Linked DNA regions of Homo sapiens. The protein of the gene in region 2 purifies or fractionates together with the protein of the main gene of each other region. This does not show direct contact. Each region holds a gene or a part of one and is shown on either strand. Other genes may lie near its edges.

The links.
Region 1: the proteins of EEF2K (region 2) and EPB41 purify together in Homo sapiens (affinity purification with mass spectrometry; 2 studies listed by BioGRID and IntAct, with this or other methods). This does not show direct contact.
Region 3: the proteins of EEF2K (region 2) and EPB41L1 purify together in Homo sapiens (affinity purification with mass spectrometry; 2 studies listed by BioGRID and IntAct, with this or other methods). This does not show direct contact.

What each region holds. Positions count from the first base shown.
Region 1 is NC_000001.11:29,029,455-29,033,205, reverse strand, and holds part of EPB41 (protein 4.1), read right to left. Parts: intron 2,807-3,751; coding exon 2,719-2,806; intron 114-2,718; coding exon 1-113. UniProt on the Homo sapiens protein: Protein 4.1 is a major structural element of the erythrocyte membrane skeleton. It plays a key role in regulating membrane physical properties of mechanical stability and deformability by stabilizing spectrin-actin interaction. Recruits DLG1 to membranes.
Region 2 is NC_000016.10:22,203,920-22,207,670, reverse strand, and holds the start of EEF2K (eukaryotic elongation factor 2 kinase), read right to left. Parts: upstream 1,394-3,751; 5' UTR 992-1,393; intron 1-991. UniProt on the Homo sapiens protein: Threonine kinase that regulates protein synthesis by controlling the rate of peptide chain elongation.
Region 3 is NC_000020.11:36,185,670-36,189,420, reverse strand, and holds part of EPB41L1 (band 4.1-like protein 1), read right to left. Parts: intron 1,746-3,751; coding exon 1,658-1,745; intron 1,075-1,657; coding exon 922-1,074; intron 1-921. UniProt on the Homo sapiens protein: May function to confer stability and plasticity to neuronal membrane via multiple interactions, including the spectrin-actin-based cytoskeleton, integral membrane channels and membrane-associated guanylate kinases.

The DNA.
Region 1 (3,751 bases), on a different chromosome or scaffold from region 2:
TAAGAAATCTTCAGCACTTTGGGCCAAGGGAAGCGGTTAATTCTCAGCTTATCTTTGTAAACCAGAAGGCCACTAGAGCAGACACCTAGGATGATATCTACTCCTTCCAAGTCCTGAAAAAGAAAAATGTTAGGATTTCAGTCTGGAGCAAAGTACTCAATACACTGTTGACTATTACTAGATAATCTGAAGATAACAACCAAAAACAGTTACAAAACATACAATGAAAAATAAAGCTCAGCCTAACAGTTATAATTTATGGACCTATTATGTTTAAATCAGCAGTCATGACTTCCTGGAGAGCAGGGCTTAGAGCTATGTATACTACCAAATATACACGCACAATTATTAATTCTTGTTTTTTTATGATAAAGTGTTAACAGCTCCAGAAATGATGTTAAATGTAGGAGTTGACTCTATTCCTATATAAACTCAGCATAAGACAATCTTAGGTTCTTAAAATTGATGTTAAGTATATTAAATTAAAAATATGATCCCTAAGTCAAGAAGTTACATTAAGGCACAATGAAATCATATTTATATGCCTCTTTATTAAAGACAACTTTAAAAAATTAAATATGTAATATTAATCATCTATGTCTATAATTCAAAGAAAATAAATTTCACCTAAGTTAGTCCCTACAGCTAACAGTTTGTTTAGCTAAGTAATCAAAACACAAAGTTAAATGCTTCTTGACTACTCTTTCCCCCAAAATGAGTATAGAGAAATATATTAGTGCCTACACGTGTTATAACAGAGAAGCAGGAATTACATACAGTTCCAATTCAGTGACTATGTAACTGAGAATTTCCCAGAAGATGCCCTCTTAAATTTTTAAAGCTTGTGGGTATAACTACATTTCACTTTGGAGAAACAATTTGCTTTACAATATTTGGGAAGGGAACATGCTGCCTGACTCCATCAATACCTGAATTGACACCAGCTTCCAGCAGGAATTGTGAAGCAAAATCTAACCATTTCAGTTTTAGAAACATACCTAATCTGATGTACTGATCTTCCTACAATATACTTTAGAGATTCATAGAAGTTGTAGTACCCAGCCCAAAATAATCCAGAACAACTTTTTTCTTTTTTTTTTTTTTTTTTAAGACAGAGTCTCAACTGTCACCCAGGCTGGAGTGCAGTGGTGCAATCTAGGCTCACTGCAGCCTCTACCTCCTGGGCTCAAGCAATCCTCCCACCTCAGCCTCCTGAGTAGCTGGGACCACCAAAGGCACGTGCCACCATGCCTGACTAATTTTTTGTATTTTCTATGGAGACGGGATTTCACCATGTTCCCCAGTCTGGTCTTGAATTCCTGAGCTTGAGCGATCGGCCGCCTCAGCCTCCCAAATTGTTGGGATTACAGGTGTGAGCCACCACGCCTGGCACTGGACCTCCCCAGCAACTTTAGTAGCTGAAGAAGAGAGAAGTAAGGAGACTTTCCTTAAGGATTCATTCTGTTAGGCTGTATTAGGTAGAACTAGGATTAAAGCTCAAGTTTCCAGGGCCCTACCCAAGTGGTTTTTGAATGAGCCACTGTGGTTCATTCAGTGTGCATCAGAACAACCTGGAGAACTTAAAATGGATTGCTGAGCTCCACCTCCAGAGAGTCTAACTCAGCAGGCCTGGGATGGGGCCTGAAATGTGCATTTCTAACAAGTTCCTAGGTGATGTTAAATGTTGCTGGCTCAGACACCATACTTTGAGAACCACTACTCTAGGCCAGTGGTTCTCAGATTCAGGCATGAATTAGAATCATTTGGGTGCTCATTAAACCAAGACATTCTAGAACCTCGCCTCCAAATTAATTCCATACATCTGAGAGAAGCTCAGGGATCTACATATTTAATGAACATCCTCAGTGATTCGATGTAGGTGATGCTGGCTGTGAAACAGGACTTGCTGCCCACTGCTCTATATTTTCAAATGTTACTGCATGTTAGGAAAATCAATTTCTTTTTCTCTAGGGGCTATCTTTTGATCTTAACAGTAGCTTGGATATGAAACTTTATTCTGAGGGTGGAATTGCTATGGGGCAAATTCAATTGATACAGTTGACTGATTTAACTGATACACTTAAAATGCTAACAAGAGGCCGGGCACGGTGGCTCACGCCTGTAATCCCAGCACTTTGGGAGGCCGAGGCGGGCGGATCACGAGGTCAGGAGATCGAGACCACGGTGAAACCCCGTCTCTACTAAAAATACAAAAATTAGCCAGGCGTGGTAGCTGGCGCCTGTAGTCCCAGCTACTCAGGAGGCTGAGGCAGGAGAATGGCGTGAACCTGGGAGGCGGAGCTTGCAGTGAGCCGAGATCATGCCACTGCACTCCAGCCTGGGAGACAGAGCAAGGCTCCATCTCAAAAAAACAAAACAAAACAAAAAAAAGCTAACAAGAAGTACTATTTCTCTCTCTTTTTTTTTTTTGAGACGGGGTCTTGCTCTGTCGCCAGGGCTGGAGTGCAGTGGCACAATCAGGGCTCACTGTACGCTCGATCTCCTGGACTCAAGTGATCCTCCCGCCTCAGCCTCCCCAGTAGCTGGGACTACAGGCATGAGCTGCTGTGCCCAGTCTACTATCTCTTTTGAATGTTTTAAAATACCCCAGATGTTGTTAAAAAGTATTATATGACACAGATGTGATACATACATAACAGACATGTATCATATAATATCTTCCACATGCATATTAATAAAGGGCAAAGTTATCATTACCTTTGCTTTATGAAGATCAACTCCATACATAGACAACTTTTTGGCATTCTCAAGAAACTCCAAGTCAGCCTGAGCTGGAGTCATGGACCTTTGATAGAATAAAAACATAAAATTCTTTCAGTGTTATAGTGTCATCATTTACAGTAACATTTATATATTCACTGTATTTTAAACACATGAACATATACATACCACTATATTAAGATATATTTCCTAGTCCTGAAAGTAGGTTATTATGGAACAGAACCCATCACTGCCTGTATCTAAATAATTAAAATATACCTTAGAAAAAGACAATGTGAGCAAACAAAAAGTCACCAAAAAGCTGCAAAAAAAATTTTTTTAATCCTACTAAACAATTTCCTTAAAGCTATTTCATCTATCATTAGTTCTGCCCCCTTCTCTTCACTCTTTTTCTCCGACATACATAAGCTCCTCCCGCTAATTTTTCTTGCCAAGGAGATGACCAAATTAAATCCTCAGAGGGCATGGTGTAATTTACAATATCCTCTTATAGCTGCCTTTTTCTCTCCATACCCCTGAATTGAGTTATGGAAATTAAACAAGAGGGCAGCTGATGTTACTTAACTGAGGACTCTTAATCGGGGCAGGCTTGATGAAAAGAAAATTTCTGGTAACAGATGGTGTCCTGCCCACTGATATAAACAAAATAAACTGGTTCACGGAAGCACATAGATAATGGGGCTGTTTTCTCTGTTATTAATATGTCTTCATTACCAGGCATATAATGAATTAGATTTGTTTGAAAACAGTCAGTCTCACTGTCTAAACACTCGCTGTGACAGTCTTTTCTTCTCCTCTATAAATTTCCCGTCTTTTGAAAAGTGTTCATGAGCTGTTATATAGAGCTTTCAAAGACAAAAATATCACTCCTAATGCTGCACAATTCAGACCAATCAAGTATAACTTAACAGTAACAATAATGCAGGCACATCCCCAAGGAAAAAACAGTAAACGCCAGTTTCCCATAAGACTGCCTCAAGCTACAGAAAGCTGCAGGGGTCTCTTCATT
Region 2 (3,751 bases):
TTCGCTGTGACTTCACAGCCTGTCCAGGGCCCTCAACCACAGGGCTCTTGGCCATCAGATGTCTCCCGGGGCCATAGACTATGACACTGTGTGCCAGGCACTGTTCCAAGCACCTGACATATACATACTCATCTACTCTTTCCAAGGATACTAAGTGGTAGATACTAATACTGTACCCATTTTACCGATGAGAAAACCGAGGGCCAGAGAGCATAAATGAGCTAGAATTCCAACCCAGGACTCCAGCCCTAGTGTTTCCTGCTTTCCTGGCTGAAGAAGCACCCACCACCGAGGTCCCAGAGGTCGGGCTCCCTGGGACCGTCCCCCTGGGCAGATCTCACTTCCCCATGCGGCCCATCTGTCACACTCAGGGCGCAGCTGGGCTGGTTCCCCGAAATCCCCCAGGCGCGCGCAAAAGGATCTAGGCCGGGGCTTACCCGGGAGGCCCCCACCCCCGCGCGGCCACCGGCTTATTAATGCCCAGCCCCTTGGCACACATGTCAGCAGCGCCTGCCAACAAACTCCCGCAGCCAACAATGCAGCAAGGGCGCGTCTATACAGTCCTGGAGGTTCCGGGAATTCGGGCTGACGCAGGCCTCTAGTTCAGGGGAAAGGTGGGGGATGCGGCTCTGAGCCCTGCAGGGGACAGGAAGGCAGCGATGCGCCCACACTCTAGGGGCCCCGAGGGGGGAGGCCCCCAAACTCTCTGTCACTTGCAGCCAGATCACCGCCCATTGCTTGCCAATTGCTTTCCATATCCACATCGCCTTTAATCCGCACAACTTCCCCATTTCTCCAAAGCAAGCACTTAGCCCCAGAGAGTTTAACAACCAGAGGAGAAGCGCCCCCACACTCTCCTTCCATGCCTTCTCCGGCCCCATTCCCAAGCCCAGACCCAGCACGCTCCAGACGCCAGCTGCACCCGGGCGCACAGGCCTGCAGCGCGGGCTCCCAGCCCCCCACAGCCTTGCCGGCCGCGGTCCACACCTACCTCCCTCGGGCAGACAGGCGCGGCAGCCGCTGCCCACGGCCGCGAGGGTCCAGAGGAGTTGGCAGAGGCTCGCGGCCCGGAGCTCCAGGGTGCAGGGCGGGCGGGCCCCCCGAGAGTGCCGGGGAGCGGAGAGCGGGGAGCGCTAGCTGGCGCTCCGGGCAAGCAGCTGGGGCCACGCGGGGTAGATGGACCGATCCCAGGGCGCGCGGGGCAGTCGGAGTGATCCCAGGAAGGGCGCAGGGGCCGTTGGGACGATCCCGGGATGTGGGAGCGCGTGCCAGGGGGGACTCGCGTGCAGGCGACAGCGAGCGGGACTCGGGTGGCTGCAGGGCCGGGAGTGCGGGCGCTCGATCCAGGAAGGAGGGGAGCTGAGGCTGAAGCTGGGGCTGGTCTAGGTTGAGCAGAAGCGGGCGGGCAGGGGCGGGGCTGGCCTGGCGGGCGCACGGCGTGGCGCTCACGTGGCCGCCCCCAGGTGGCCATCACAGCGCCTGCAGCCGCCTAGCGGGCCTCCTGGCTCCGGCGCTGGCTCCCAGCCCCAGGTGCAATGGTTAGCGCTAAGTCTTGGCTCCCCCTGCTGAGTACACAGTGTCCGGTTCTCCTGCTCAAGGCTGGCCTAGCATCCGGCAGCGAGGGGGCAATTCGAGGGAGTGACCAACTTCCGTCCTCTCCCGCCGCGCCTCGCCATTCTCGCCTGCTTCTCGCTTAGTTCCTGTATTCCTGTCCTTTCCAAAATCATTAGTGATCCAAGCCCATCGCTTGTTTGTATGTATCTCTATCCATAACCTTAAAATATTTTTTATCGGAAATACTTTGTTTTTCCTGATTTCTGCTTTGTAAAAACAGGCACGTATGACGATTGCAATTATTTGTGTAGTTTTAAAATTAGTATCTCCTTTAGTTATTCCTAACTCTTGACACAGGGCCTGGGTGGCACACAGTAGATGCTTAATAAATACCTGTGGCATGAGTGGTAGAGTGGCTAAGGTATAAAAAAGAAAACGAATTAAAACTAATAGCTACTGTGAACACTTTAATATTAGGTCCTTCCAGATACTTTGTTAGTGAAATTTTAGAAATTTCACACATTCTAGATAGAAAAGTAGTAACAATGACATGTTTTGAGGGATTTCTCTCATTCCATCTTCCCAGCACTTTGGGAGGCCGAGGCCGGCAGATCACCTGAGGTCAGGAGTTCGAGACCAGCCTGGCCAAAACGGTAAAACCCTGTCTTTAGTAAAAATACAAAAAAGCAGCCGGGCGCGCCTGTAGTCCCAGCTACTCTGGAGGCTGAGGCACGAGAATCGCTTGAACCCTGGAGGCAGAGGTTGCAGTGAGCCGAGATCGCGCCACTACACTCCAGCCTGGGTGAAGGAATGAGACTCCGTCGCAAAAAAACAAAAACAAAAAAATAAAAAAGAAAAAAGAACAAAACTGAGGCTTATAGAGATAATGACATGCCCCAGGTGAGGCAGCTAGAAAAGGCAGAGCCAGCAGTAAATCCAGACTTCTCTGATTTCAAAGTTCAGGCTCTCCAAAGAACTTTTTTCCTTATTTATAAACCCCAAAGAGAGTAAACTCCAGCTTTTGGCAAGACAAAATTGCACCTGGAATTCTGACCCTGGGGCCGTCAGGCAGGAAGGGAAGATCAAAGATGCTGAACTAGTCTGTCCAAGCCCAAAGCAAGATTGGAAAAAAAAAAAAGACGCTACTGCTTAAAGCTCTATGGCCCTTGGGCAAGTTATTTTACTTCTCTGAGCCTCTGTCATTTTTGTCTGCCCAGCAGGAGTGTCCTTCTTTGCATTAGCGTCTTGGTTAGTCTTCAGGGAACCAGTTCACCCTATTTCAGTTCAGGAAAATAGCCCTCCCCACTCCCCTGGCTCCAAAAATGGACACATGACCAGACCTGGCCAATTAGCATATTTCATCCCTTCAGCCTCATTGATTGGTTCAGGGATGAGCATGTGATCCAAGTTAGGCCAGTGAAATACTAATCTGGGCCTTTTATAGTAACCATAAAAAGAGAATGTCTCTTTTCCAGGGAGTTGAGCAGATAGGATGTAATAGTAGAGTTTCTGAGCATTAATTCTTATGGCAAATTTTATTAAGCTCCTATTGTGTGCCAAATATGGTGCTAGGAATTGGGGGAAACATTTGCCTTCAAGGAGATGTCTACTGCGGTAAAATAAAATTACTCAAGGCCGGGCAAGGTGGCTCACACATGTAATGTCAGAGCTTTGGGAGGCCAAGGCAGGAGGATCAATGGGGCCAGGAGTTCAAAACCATCCTGGGCAACATAGCAAGACCCCTGTCTCTAAAATAAAACATTAAAAAAAAAAAAAACCCAGGTATGGTGGTGTGTGCCTGTAGTCTCAGATACTCAGGAGGCTGAGGCAGGAGGATCCCTTGGGCCCAGCAGTTTGAAACTGCAGTGAGCTATGATCATGCAGTGCACTTCAGCCTGGGCAACAGAGTGAGACCCTGTCTGTAAAAATTAAATAAATAAATGAAAAAGGCCAGGCTCAGTGGCTCATGCCTGTGATCACAATACTTTGGGAGGCAGGCAGATTGCTGGAGCTCAGGAATTTGAGACCAGCCTGGGCAACATAGCGAAACCTCATCTTTATAAAAAAATACAAAAATTAGCCAGATGTGGTGGCTTGCATCTATGGTCCCAGCTACTCAGGAGGCTGAGGTGGGAAGAACACTTGGACCTGGGAGGCAGAGTTTGCAGTGAGCCAAGATCCCGCCACTACACTCTAG
Region 3 (3,751 bases), on a different chromosome or scaffold from region 2:
ATAGGTGGGAGAGGTAGGTGGCCATGGAAGGAGTTTGAAGTTTAGCTCAAGAGCTAAAGAGAGTTCCTGAAAGGTGTAAGCAAGGGTGTGGATGGGAAGGGGGAGTGGGCTTGCCATGATCTGATTTAAGGGACTTTTTAAGATCTCTCCAGCAGCTATGAGGAAAATGACCTGGAGAGCACCAGAGGCGAGGGAGAAGGCCCTCATAGGCACAGGCAAAAGATGGGGGATGCTGGAGGCGGGTGTGATGGAGAGGAAGAGAAGCAAATGGGTTCATGTTTATTCTACAGGTACAACCAAATGGGCTTTTTGATGGGTGAGATGTAGGTAATTGAAGGAAAAGAGGTGTAGACATATACATGTTTGCATTTGTGTGTGTTGTATGTATAGTCGAGTCTGTGTATCTTAAAATGTGTACAAACTTCCATACTTACAACACCTAAATACATGAACTTTACACAGACATGTATTCATTTATCTGTGTGACCTGAATGTATGTAGTTATATTTCTTCTTTTTTTTTTCTCCCTTTTTTTTTTTTTTGAGACAGAGTCTTGCTCTGTTGCCCAGGCTGGAGTGCAGTGCCAGCTAATTTTGTATTTTTAGTAGAGACGGGGTTTCACCATGTTGGCCAGGCTGGTCTCACACTCCTGACCTCATGTGATCCACCTTCCTCGGCCTTCTAAAGTGCTGGAATTACAGGCATGAGCCACTGCACCTGGCCATATGTGGTTATACTTTTATTTAGACTCCTCTCTCTCTCTCTCTCTCTCTCTCTCTGTGTGTGTGTGTGTGTGTGTGTGTGTGTGTGTGTGTGTGTGTGTGTGTGTGTGTGTGTGTTGGCAGTCCAGGCCCAGCTGCCAGGGTCCACTCCATTCTAGTTGATTCCGGTGAGGAGGAGTGTTTCCCAAGGCAGACTCACCTCCCCAGGCCGGATCTTGATATAGAAGTTACTCCTCTTGTAGGAGATCTTGAGGATCTTGGGCCAGGCAAAGCGGTTGATTCTCAGCCGGTCCCGGTAGATGAGCAGGCCATTGGCACAAACGCCTAACATGATGTCGATGCCCTCAGAGTCCTGCATGAGAAGAGACCATGGAATGGGAGGCCCGGGGTCCATGCCTGGGGACAGCCTACCACCCACCCCGAAAACACTGCCCTGTGCGCTGCTTGTAACGAGCTCTCAGGAACAGGGTTAGAGCCTCCATGCTGGAGTCCCACTGACCAATCCCTCCCATAGTCATTCAGTCATTCACTCATCCATTTAGGTATTTTTTTCACCCACTCACTTGTTTGATCATTTGCTCTGTCAATCACTCAATCGTTCATTCATCCAGCAAATATTTAGTGGCACACACTTGGTGCCAGGCTATGTGCCAGGTGCTAGGGATATAGAAATAAACTAAGGCCTACGTCTTTCCCTCACAATGCTCCCAATCTAGCAGTGGCTCAAACAGGTTCATAAATAAAATACATGGAGAAAATAATACAGATCATGAGAAAATAAAAGGTTATGGAACTTCGAGAAATGAGAATGAGAACAGAAAAGGTTTCAAGTTGGAGGTAACACAGGGTCTGGCACACCACGCCCTAGGGAAAGGCCTGATAGTTCTTTGGGGGCACCACCCAGACACTAGGGGAACCCAGGAAGCTGGTGGTACCTTGGCATGGTGCAGGTCTACTCCGTACATGGAAAGCTTCTTGGCATTCTCTAAGAAGTGGATTTCTGCTTCTCCCGGGGTCATCCCCCTGAGGGAAAGAAAGTGATCACAGGTGACCAAGGGAAAGGCCCAGGTTTAGTCCTGCTGTCCAAAGGTGCCCACCATCAGAACCCATGATTCTAGAAAGTCAAATATGCTGAGCCTCACCCTAATCTTTTCCCTCTGCCCTCAGAGCAGGAGGGTGTACCCCAACTCCCACTTCAGCCCACCCAACCCCCAACTTCTGCCAAAGCTCAAGTCCAGTCTTGTTAGTCCAGGGATCATACAAAGGCTGAGCTGGGAGTCAGGATTTTTGCCTCATTCTGCCACTGAGTTGACTGTGAGCTATAAATTCTACTTTTCCATGACTGTAAAACCATTGTTACGGACATTGTTCATTATCATCACCCAGGGGCTCCTAAATTATTACCCACACAGGATATTTCTTGCAGAATTTAGTATCAGAAGCCACTTAATCTCTCCTAAGGAACAGGTGCACATTCTCCTTTCCAAAAAGAAGAGTTATGTAATTAATCAAGTTCCTTCTTTGCTTTGGCTGCCAGGAAACTTGGACTACATTTTATACTTAGTCACAGCAAACATTTATTGAGTACTATGTGCTGGTTACTGTTCTAAGCACTTTACACATATTAACTCACTGAATCCTCATAACAACTCTGTAAGATAGGTATTATTATTATTGTCATTTTACAGATGAAAAAACCGGCACAGAGACATTGAGTAACTTGTCCAAGGTCACACTGCTATGAAGAAGAGTCAGAATTTGAATCTAGACAATGTGACTTCAGAGTTTATGCTCCTAATCACTTCATTACAGGTCTTGTGTATCCTCCAGGCCTCAGTTTCCTGTGACCTGTCTACCTCTGGGCTGCTGTGTGGGATACTTGGACACGAGATGTCAGTGTGCTTTAGGTCCAAAGAGCTTTAGGGACAGCCCTTAGTATTTCTCCAGCCCATATTGATCTGAACATCTTTCTCTGAATTATTATGACTCTTGCAAATCCTAAGATGTCTTGCTATCTAGGACAGGGATGACAAATAGATGGCAGGCAGGCCACTACTCCCTATTCCTATGCCCAGGTGGATATTGCTAACCTGGGCATTGTAGGGAATCAGTGTCCTACTCAACACAACACCACAGCAGTCGCTATTAACCAAGTGGAGTTAGTGTGCGACTCTCAGAGACAGCATTTGCCACCCTTGACCTAGCATTCATCACACCCCAGCAGGCTCTTCCCCACGTACACGATCCCTCCACATCTGACTCTAGCCCTCCTCTCCAGATAACGCCCACAGAACCAAGGCCTCCTAATTCCCTCCATCCTCAATAGTAATGAGACAATATCACCATACTCCTTTCCCTGGGTGCCGCACTTTACAGTTTATAATGCACCTTCACATTATTAATTATATTGAGTCCCCATAACAATCCTGGACTTACAGCCCCAAATACTTCCAGCTTAAAAGGACCCTACAAATCATTTAGTTCCAAGGGCTCCTCTCCAGGGGAACCTGTACAGAAGCAATGGCAAAGGGGAGTATCTGGGTTGTTACAAGGACTGAGAAGGTGTTATGGGCATTTACTGGGTCCCAGGGATGCTGAACATTCTGCACAATGAATTCTCCTGCCCCAAATGCCAATAGTTGAGAGACACTGATAATCTAACTTTGTGCATATACAGGTGAAAAATGGGGCTTAGATAGGTTAAATAACCAGCCTACAATCACACTAGTTAATTATCGTCCAACTGCTGGAACGAGGTACTTTCCCCTGCATGATCAACTGTTCAACCCCTCGATCCACAGACAGCAACACTAACAGCCAACATGCAGTGTGCCTTTAATATGTGCTATTTAGGCTTCCCAACAATCCTACAGGGTGGGTTTAACAGCATCCACCTTGAACAGATGAGGAAACCAAAGCATAGGAAGTGAAATGACCTTCCTGAGATCCTCTAGTTAGAAAGTGGCAGAGCCAGTATAGGAACCCTAGCAGGCTGGCTTTCGGGTCCAAACTTTTGAACTCTACACCAA